2 separate regions of the Homo sapiens genome follow, and region 2 is linked to region 1. Evidence: fine-mapped expression QTL. A gene starts in region 1. The other region holds a variant in brackets. All regions are shown on one strand. Distances are between the middles of the regions. Region 1 holds the start of PNPLA4 (patatin like domain 4, phospholipase and triacylglycerol lipase). Region 2 overlaps PNPLA4 (patatin like domain 4, phospholipase and triacylglycerol lipase).

Region 1 (5,350 bases):
CGACAAGAGGTGTTAAGATGCCTGCCGGGCACAGTGGCTCACGCCTGTAATTCCAACACTTTGGGAGGCCGAGGCGGGCAGATCACCTGAGGTCAGAAGTTCGAGACCAGCCTGACCAACATGGAGAAACCCCGTCTCTATTAAAAATACAAAATTAGCAGGGCGTGGTGGCACATGCCTGTAATCCCAGCTACTCGGGAGGCTGAGGCAGGAGAATCGCTTAAACCCGGGAGGCGGAGGTTGCGGTGAGCTGAGATGGCGCCATTGCACTCTAGCCTGGGCAACAAGAGCAAAACTCTGTCTCAAAAAAAAAAAAAAAATGCCAAGACTGGAAAATGAAATAACACCACAAGGAGAGTAGACTGAAAGAACTGATTAGACTCAAAGATTCTGAGATATGGTCCTTTCCCTGGAGCAGAGGTGTGGACAAGCAACACTTACCCATGTCCATTTCTCCTCCCTTATGGGATACAGGATAAAATCTCCTGAGAGGAAGCACTGGAGAGGAAAAGGAGCCATCAAGCTGGGGCATTTTGTTTCTGTGCTGGGTGCTACTGTAGGCACCTCCCGAAGCTAAAGGTTTCCTACTCCGTAGCTGGTGTGCACAACCAGGGCATCTGTGCATGGCTTTGCAATACCACATCATCACGCCTCTGTAATTACACATCAGATGTCTCCCTATCCACTGGACTCTGCATCCCTGATAAGGGCTGAATTCTTTCAACTGTGTATGCCCTGTACCAACGTAACACTTGCTATACAACAGATGATTAATAATTACGTAAATGGCTAAATAAACAAACCCGTTTGAAACTAAATTACTAAGGAAAATAGACGAGCAAAAATAAGCAAATTAATTACAGAAAAAAAAGTTTCAAAGAGCAATTAAATTACTATATATTCAGATCACAATGGTAATTTACATAAATCCAACATCCAAAACAAATATTTATTGATCATATACTATGGGCCAAGTGCTAAGCTTGGCGATGAGATGACAAAGACAAATGTGAATGAATATATCCTTCCTTACATTAGAAAGCTGAACTTTTTTTGTTTTTTGTTTTTTCTTTAGAGATGAGGTCTCACTACATTGCTCTGGCTGAAGATGAACTCCTAGGTTCAAGCAATCCTCCCACCTCAGCTTCCTGAGTGGCTGAGACTACAGGCACATGCCACCTCACCCAGCTGAGAGCTGAACTTTTAACTAGTTACATGGAGATATGATACGGGATTGAAGGGAGTAAGGAGGAAATAAATTTAAAATTTTAAGAGTTAAATTATGGAGCATTTTGCTGCTCCAAAGAGACTTACCTTTGGTGAGCTCTCACTCTGCCAGCCAGGTGTAGAAATAGTGGATGCCCTTATCTTTCCTTTAAGTGAAAGATATCAAAGTTGTGGTGTTCATCCAGGCTGCCCGGTGATAAAGTTTTCACCTGTCTCCTGAATCGACCTGCTGACAGTGTCCAAATGCAGGAAATAACTTGCTCTGTAAACAGCATCCCAGATTCTGGTTCTGTAAATCCAGTCTCTCCTTAAACTTCTGATGCCACCACATCACTTTAAACCAGACCACCTGTCTTAATCCATTCAGGCTGCTATAATAAAGTAGCATTGACTGAGTGTTTATAAAAGAAATTTATTTCTCACAGTTCTGGAAGATGGAAGTCTGAGATCAAGGTGCCAAGATGGTCAGGTTCTGAGGAGGGCCCTTTTCCAGTTTGCAGATTGCCATCTTCTCCGTGTACTTTTATCCTTACATGGTGGAAAGAGACCTCTCTGGGGTCCCTTTTCTAAGAGTACTAATCCCATTCATGAGGGCTTCACCCTCATGACTTAATTACCTCCCAAAGGCCCCACCTCCTAATACTATCACCTTGGGGGTTAGTATTTCAATATGTGAATTTTGGAGGTATACATGCAAACAATAACACCACCAAAGGAGTTAGACCACTGCTTCAGGATTCTGTTAAAACGCAGATGCCGACTCAGATCAGAGATGGGACCTGGGATCCTTCCTTTCTCATGAGCTTCCTGGAAGATGCAGTTCTGGGGAGGATCACACTCGACCTTAAAGAGCTAGAAGATTGTGGAAGGTTTAAGGACTGGAGTGTGTCCTGTATTTTCCTAATGTACGTTGTGCCTTCCCTTCACTAAATTCCGGTAGAGGTAAAGAATTCTGAGTAATGCAGTCATTCTACGATAAGGCAATAAGGTGTTTCAGGATCAATTTTCTCTAAAGAATAGTTATGTGAATTAAAAACATCTTCCCTAATCGTCACATCAAGGACTCACAGGTGTTGTTGGCCAGAGACGATACACCAAAACAGAAAGAAAAAGCCCAAACCAGAGGCAATTTGGAGAGCTCCACCCCTCCTCCCTGTTTTGTCTAAGGTAGAGACATTCTCGCAGACGCTCCTTTGTAGCCTCAGAGAAAGTAAATCTCTGCCCTTAAACTAGGGGACCTGGAGAGCCTTCAATCACGAAGTCAGGGATTCCTCCAGGCTTGGTTATTAGGATTAGATAAGGAAAACACCGTTTGGGGAGAGAAAGAATTATCAGAGTCCTTTAAATCTTGGTGGGCATGGCAGGCATCTTGGCGGTCGTTGAAGCTGCTTAAGTCTGAGCCAAAGGTGCCAGAGGACAAAACAGCCACCTGCTCACGGCCCCCTATGTGGAAAAAGCTTTCCAATTTAGCTCTCTCATTTTAGCATCTCAATCTGCACATAAGGCACGCGGGAAACTCAGAGAGGTTATGCTACCTGCTCAAGGTCACACAGCCTAAGGTCAACTGAGGATATGAAAGTTCCCCAGAGTCATAGTCCAGCTTTTCCTTTAGATAGCACTTCTTAAAAAAACCAAAGGCACGCCTTGAAAAGCTGCGGGATGTCCAGCCCCAAAATAGCCGCTGGAGTTGGCCCCTAGGGGCAGCTGGACCGCCCAGGCGGGCGAAAGGGTGGAGAGGGAGAAGAACCACTTCCGGGAAACAGACGCGAAGAGGGTAAGGCACTTCCGGGGCACAGAAAATGAGGATTATTAAAGGTCAGTTGCTCGCAGGTAAGGGCCAAGTAGCGTTAAAAGACACGTAAGGATTACAACGCCTCTCTAGGGTGTGGGTTAAAATGTCTCTCTAGGTACTCGAAGATAACATGACTCTAAACGAGGAATCCTTGCCTGCGCTGGAGGACGCTCCGGTCTAGCGGCCAGGTTGAGTCCAGAAGTTTAAATAGAGCAGGCGGGGCCTAGCGGGCGCCTTCGTCGGCGCGATGACGTCACATACCTGCGCGGGAGGCGGTACCAACCCCTGCCGCAGGACTTTCCTGGGCCGGCTCGCGGAGAGCGTAGCGCGGCCTTGGTGGCGGAATGGCGTTGAGTGACGGCCCGGCCCCGCCATCTGGTTAAAGGGACTCGTTCAACACGGAAGTGTCCCGGGGCTGCATTGGTACGGAGCCCTGGGGCCCAGCAAGGGTGTGCTCCTGCGGGACTGATGCGGGGACCACCCCGGCCCTGCCGGCCTCCAAGCCGCGGGAGGGCACTGAGCCTGTGCTGGCTGGGCCTGGCCGCCTGGTTGCTACACACCCAACCCCCTTCCCGTCCCCATTTGCAGAAGTGGAATCAAAACTGGGGCTTGACCCCGGATCGATGACTGGGACTCAGCCTACGCGGACGCCAGCGCAGCCTGCGGCGGCCGAGCCACCTGCCCTCACAGGGCCTGGCCGGGTGCATCAGGAACAGGCGGTCTTAGGTCCCTAAATTCGAGGCCCTGTAATGTGCCTCATCTTGGGGTCCCTGAATGGGGCCCTTGGGCCCCCAAGGAAACCCTGAGACCTTCAGAATGGACAGCCTTGTGGAGGCACAATTTCATTCACTTGGGCAAATTGTGCGCACTGAGGCATAGGAAAACATGTAATTTTGTATTTAGATGTGTTCCAAGTATAAAGTGGCGTGGCTGACATTTCATAGAGCCTTAAATTGCCTTCACCAGGCATGACCTCAGTTTGTGTTGAGATACTTGGCAAAGAAATGTATTGCATTGTTGAGTGATTGCTTATTGCGTTACTGAGTAATTGTATTGGCGTTCATAAAAGCATGGGTGCTCACAATAGAAATTGGGAAGGGGAGTAGGGAACTGTATTTGAAATCTTCTGATACACTTACCAAGAACAAATGTATTGTTCATTTGGAATTTGATACGGTCTCTAATAATTTTCTGTTTCATAATGGTAGTGCCGCCCCCACCCGCAAAACGTTTCAAAGGGTCAAGAGAAAAGACCAAATGCCCTTGTCAACTGGAATTTATACGTCTGTTTCCTGCCAAGTAATTAAATCGTAGATTCATAATCTATGTACCGAATAAATGTGGAATGTTTTTGTTTTGTTTTGTTTTAATGTATAAGACTTGGGTCAAGGTGAGGAGGGAAAGAAAGGGTTTCCTTGAAAGATTCTTGTGTTTAATTAGAATTAATTGAAACCACTGTGCTTAAAACAGAGAATGATGTTAGAAGAAAGCCTTGGAACGATGATCAACATAAGACTACACAGTATGTGGGATAAACTATTCCAACTTACAGCATTTTTGTTTTTTGTATTGCCAGTGCTACAGCTAGAATGAAGCACATCAACCTATCATTTGCAGCGTGTGGATTTCTGGGCATTTACCACTTGGGGGCAGCATCTGCACTTTGCAGACATGGCAAAAAACTTGTGAAGGATGTCAAAGCCTTCGCTGGGGCGTCTGCGGGATCGTTGGTTGCTTCTGTTCTGCTAACAGCACCAGAAAAAATAGAGGTAATTAAGTAGTAACTTAGGCTGTGTTCCTCATCAAGAAATTAAGACCCAAAGGCAAACACCAGCATTGACTCTACTAAGTTAACACTGCAGAGAAATAATCGTTTGCTTGGAAACAGAAAGGATTAGGACTTTTCTCTTAAGATGTAATTATTAGGGATCTGTGCTCTGGTTGTGGAAAAGATTATTTTGGGTGATAGTGAAATAAGGAAATAAAATGACTTATATTACTCTTGAGTTTTTATTTATCCTTAAGATTCCAGCTCTGTTCCTTTCAAGCAAAGGATATTTCTTCTTTCTATGATCATGAGAAGAGCATGGGGCCTGTTTTCAAGGCCTTGAACATGTGGGCAACAAGTCTTACCTCACTGCTACTTAGAAATAGATACATAAATTAAAATGTGGGCATGCAGTTTCTATTAAGTGGAATGGTATAGGAATTTAATTCTTTTTTAATTCTCACAGTAAGAGGAAGCTCTGAGTTCCAAGCAATTTATCCAGAAGTAATACAAATAATTATTCATTAAGTACTTTATTTAATGCAATCTATGTTTTAAAATCT
Region 2 (5,339 bases), 29 kb after region 1:
CTCGGCCTCTCAAAGTGCTGGGATTACAGGCCTCAGCCACCACGCCTGGCCCAGAGCAATTTTAAATAAAATCATTTATTTGCTTAGAAAGATGGAGGTAATGAAATATATAAAAATAGTGGAGAAAAACTTAGGGACCCAAATGAATAATTGACATAAAAATACTGATTCCCTTAATCTAGTCTAATAGTTTTCCACATGGGATGATATTGTACTAGACATTTTTGGTTATCATGTCCCAGTGGTGCTACTGGCATCTGGTGGGTAGAGGCCAGGAATGGTGTTAAACGTCCTGCAGTGCACATGACTGTCCCACAGTTAAGACGTCGTGGCCCCAAATGTCAGCAGTACCAAGGCTGAGAAACTCTCCTTTAGTGTATCAGTGGAGGTAACTTCTGAAGTTTAAATTTTTCCTACTGATTTTTTGTTACTGCTAATTGTATCTGTGATAAGAAAACCTAGATTATAAAAATAGTGTATATTTACCTGTACTGCAATATCCTACAGCTTAAATTTTGGTCTTTTTATTCTAGTTGTCCCTGGCAAACCTGGTGAGACTCAACCAAGCCCTTTTTCCCCCAAGCAAGAGGAAAATGGAATCTTTGTATCAGTGTGGTTTTGATGACACTGTTAAGTTTTTACTTAAAGAAAATTGGTTTGAATAAAATGCATAAAAGTTTATAATGCAAAACACGTTTTAGATAGTTTTTGATGGAAGTTTCTAATCAAATCCTTTTTAGAAAATCTATCATGACTCAATTGTATTACTCCTTGTAATATTTGTGTTTATTTTTAATATTTGAATTATTACTTAGCACATGGATATAAGAGGCACTTTATTAGAATTTGACAACGTCATTAAGAAGGATACACTTAGGTGATAAGGAATCATTTTTGGTGAACTGTTGTGTCCTTTAAAAAATGGAGGAGGATAGGTTCTTTGGGTAAATTGAGGAACATGGAAAATGGAGGGCCACCACTTAGGTTCCATGGAGAATATGTGGCATGATCTTGACGTGAAGCATGGGTGTTTCCGTGACTTAGCTGTGTCCCTGTAGCTCTGGAACTGAAGGAACTAGGTAGGAGAGGAAGGATTTGAGAAATAGGCAACTCATGGTTAAAGACCTTTGATCAGGACTGGAGGAACAAAGGTTTGTGTATTAGTCCATTTTCACACTGCTGAGAAAGACATACCCAAGACTGGGCAATTTACAAAAGAAAGGTTTAATGGGCTCACAGTTCCACATGACTGAGGAGGCCTCACAATTGTGGTGGAAGGTGAAAGGCATGTCTCACATGGCAGCAGACAAGAGAAGAAAACTTGTGCAGGGAAACTCCCCTTTATAAAACCATCGGATCTCTTGAGACTCGTTCACTATCATGAGAATAGCATGGGAAAGACCTGCCTCCATGATTCAGTTACCTCCCACTGGGTCCCTCCCACAACGTGTGGCAATTGTGGGAGCTACATACACTTCAAGATGAGATTTGGGTGGGGACACAGCCAAACCATAACAGTTTGCTTTCCACAGGTGTGTGCAGTTGCTCCCAGTGCAGTTAGGGGCAGATATCCAGAAGCCTAGGAGATTTTGAAGAGGCTTATCCCCTCTCATCTTCCTCCCCTAAACCCCACCCCAGTTTAGGAGATTATCAAGCTGGTTGTCATTCATTCTCTCTCTCTCTCTCTCTCTCTCTCTCTCTCTCTCTCTCTCTCTCTCTCTCTCGCCATACCTCTCTGAGTATTTAGCTATTGTTCTATATACTGGATACATCTATTATGGGAACTTAAATAGATAAAATACTACTAAACACAAAGAACCAAGTAGCCTAGTAAATAAGAATTAAATCCAGAATAATCATTCACTTCTCATTTTTAAATCACGTTGTACTGATCCCAGGTTTTTTACTTTCTGAGTAGTTGTCCATCACTTTGAGGACTTGTGTATGGGCTTGTACCAATTTACTGACACTGTCTTAAATCCTAAATCTGTTTTTATGAGGTTTTGCCAAGCAAGAACTCTTGATTACTAAGAGGCAGTTAGAGACAAACCAATTTAATTCCATGTCTTCAATTGTCA[C/T]GCATTTCTTCTTTTACTCTTTGAAACTATTCTTTGAGTCAATTTTATGGTTCTCAGAAGCCAAAATACACAACTTTTAGCACATAAACACCAACGATGGCCTCTTTTTGAGGAGTTATGCATAGACCCACTCTAGAGTAATGATGGTCCCTGTGGTATATACTTTCTCCTACTCTAGCAAACATGTAGTTTAATCTTAATGTGTTGTTTCCATAAGTGACATGAAGTGGATAGATTCTCAATTGTTATGTCCACTTATTCACTAGGTAAATTTTCAGTTTTAATACTTTTCTCCTTACCCCTTCCTTTGATCATTTCATGTGAATATTCTATTTGTATGATACACTGTATTTCAATAAATTCCTTGTTGATGTACCCTTAAATTGAAGAAATTTAAGCTGCAAAACCAAATCTCATTGTATAAGACTTTTTTGAAGTATCTTGTATCGACTACATATGTATTTGACCCTGTGGGAGGATGGTACTTTTCTTTTTAACTTTTATTTTAAGTTCAGGGGTACGTGTACAGGTTTGTTATAGGTAAACTTGTGTCACGGGGGTTTGTTGTAAAGATTAATTTATCACCCAGGTGTTGGTACTTTTCTTTAAAAATACTGTAAGATCATTGACGTATCAGTCTGCAGCAACTTTCCTACATGAGGGGAATACAGCGGTGTAATGAAACACATACTTGGTGCACACTAGGCGCTCTCCGGGGCTGGTGCACCAAATTCTCCTGTGAGCATGCTACCAAGCATGCTCTGCTTACCTTTGCTGGAGTGTGTGCTCATGCAGCCATACTAATTGAAAACAGGCATTCACAACAGGATCTGCCTCACTTGTGGGATCAAAATTTTGAGGCATTGTAGAACTGGCATATAGAAAATCTGAAAGGAGTTTCTGACCCAGATACTGATATGTTTGCAGGGTAATTACTGTGATTGGCAGCTTGATAAATTCCCAATTCCCTGTGGGGGCAATTTCCTTATATATTTGAATCTGTCATTAAAAATGTCATTAGTCTTCCTTTTCTTCTTTTCAATAAGACACTTTACTATGTAACTATGGTAACCCAGTGCTTCCATTGACAATTAGAGAAAATAGGTTTGGTTTTGAAGTTCAATAGTGCTCTAAAGGAACAAGCCATATATTAAAAAGTAAGAAAGAAAAAAAAACTGTTAATTCTGGGTTCTTAATATCAGGTGCAGGGTGTGTATACTAGAAGCTTGCAAAGATACAGTCTCACCACTCTGGGCATTGAATTTTGATTCTAAACAAGCATGAGCACTCAAAATACACAGATATTAGTGATTATGCTTTTAATTTTTTGGAAGATTAAAAAAGATAAATACAATTACATAAAAACATGTTTATAAATATTAGTCGTAGAAAGTTTTTGGATCCAGTCTATTACTTTTACAATTGAGGAGCCTAACTATGGAAGATCAGTGTTTTGGGATTTTTCTTGCCTAAATTTTGTCTACGTGATAGCAAAATAAAATCAGAAGTTGAAGTAATTATCTAAATAAAGTAGGAAGGAAGGCAGTTATTGCAGTTCATGTAAAGTGGACAGATTTTTAGACAGCTATCATGATTCTGATTTGCAAATTGACAGTTTCTTTGGGCAGAATTCACCATTTATTTGCTTAGTTCTGCACTTCAATTTTTTTCTAACTGCACAACTCAAAGCTCTGCTTACTTAATGCTAACACACATGTTTATTTTTCCTCACACATATCCCCTAACTCAGTATAATTTCCCCATTTTGACTGACTTAGAGGGGAGAAATATGATTTAACTTTATTCATACTTTAGAATGCATGTCTGAGTACACAGTCATGTACAAGTCATAATATCACATCCAACTTAATCTTGAAATAAGATAATTTGTGAAAAACATGAATATGAACAAACATACTTGCACATATATATGTATGTACATATACACATACCTAAAACATGTCACAGCAGCTGCATTTTAACTGTGCCGAGATGAAGCAGCATTTATGTAATGCCCGATTTCACTGAGTTTATAAGTGCTCTTTAACCTTTATATAGTCAGATTCACTTTTGTGGACAGACCTAGTAAAGTGCATATGCGTACTCTACTCTTGGAAAGCCCCACAGTTCCAGCCAGTCCAAGAATATCAGCCCTCCCTTGATGGGCTCAATGGCTTTGCAACATGACCTTCCAGCTATGGCCAAGCTCATGGCCCTGCAGGTGGGTCCCTGATTCATAAACTGTCCCTTGCAAGATTGGACTTGGGCCGTGCAAAAGTCTACTGGGCACTTTTGTGGATCCCTCCCTTCACGGAGCTCACCTGAGCAACTAAGAAAACAATCATGTGAGATAATTCAGGCCACACAAGCAATGTGAAAGGGCCAGGAAGCTTGAGGAAGATTTACGGTGGCTGCTTCTCCTTTTGTCCAACAGCGAGATGTGCTGGTGTCTGTTGCTAGCCAAGACAGGGACTTCACTATTACCCCTCACCCACCACTCACCTGGACACCCACCACTCACAAGAGGACCCCCTGGAGGAAAGGCTCAGGATGACACATGTTCAAATCCTGAAGTTACTCCAGGAAGAAGGTAAAATGGTCGAAGGGGTGATCACTGGGCTTATTGACACTGTGGACACATCAACCCCAAAACTTGGTTCCTGGCAAGGTCATGGAACTAGGCAATTTAGCTCTACTGATCAACCTCAGTCAGAACTATCTCTTGACAATTTCAAATCCAAGGGGGTTACTAGCGCCAATCACTCCCAGTGAGGGAAATGATCTGTTCTATTTTGCCATTTCTGGTTCCTCCTCCTACTGGCTGAACAGAATCATGGTAATGGATGATCTTATTGTACTTGTCAAGGGGAGATGGATTTGCTGCCATATGATGGGGATAGGGAGGAATGAGCATGAAATTGGGGTAACCCCTCCGGTTATCCAGTCTACAACCAGCACTAGTGGAATAGTTAGTGGGAAGCCATTGCAACCTTATATGGCAGAAGCAAGGGTACACATCCCTGAGGACCTAAGGTTTGAGTCATGTCACTGGAAAATGGACTCTGATCACCTGACCTGTGCCTGAAAAGGAAGCCACCTGGAATAGAGAATGATTGAGGAAAGTCAATGTCACCTCAGAAACAGTGGCAGCCACAGTGACCTAGGATGGCCAACCTGATGCCAAGTAGCTGAGTTTTAGAAGCCTGTTCTCCTACCAGCTGCCAATAGTAGGAACTGTTCATATCATATCCTTCCAGTACC

The links. PIP is the estimated chance that this variant, and not a neighbour inherited with it, causes the effect. A credible set is the group of variants that fine-mapping cannot tell apart.
Region 2: its variant is the best candidate, but not a certain one, in a credible set for the expression of PNPLA4 in whole blood (TOPMed, PIP 0.77).

The regions. Positions count from the first base shown.
Region 1 is chrX:7,925,378-7,930,727 of GRCh38, reverse strand. It overlaps PNPLA4 (patatin like domain 4, phospholipase and triacylglycerol lipase), which reads left to right and starts at 3,315. Exons shown (of 7, transcript NM_004650.3): 1 at 3,315-3,442; 2 at 4,596-4,788. The coding sequence starts at 4,609. LOC107985675 (a long non-coding RNA gene) reads right to left here and starts at 3,228. Exons shown (of 5, transcript XR_001755784.2): 1 at 1,315-3,228. RefSeq lists enhancers at 2,708-2,787, 3,128-3,177, 3,198-3,437, 3,668-3,897, 4,560-4,609 and a silencer at 4,586-4,880.
Region 2 is chrX:7,896,012-7,901,350 of GRCh38, reverse strand. PNPLA4 (patatin like domain 4, phospholipase and triacylglycerol lipase) reads left to right here. Exons shown (of 7, transcript NM_004650.3): 7 at 534-3,104. The coding sequence ends at 665. Among named protein-coding and RNA genes, the nearest start is that of PNPLA4, 29 kb to the left of the region's middle. The variant C/T (reference allele first, on the strand shown) is at 2,079.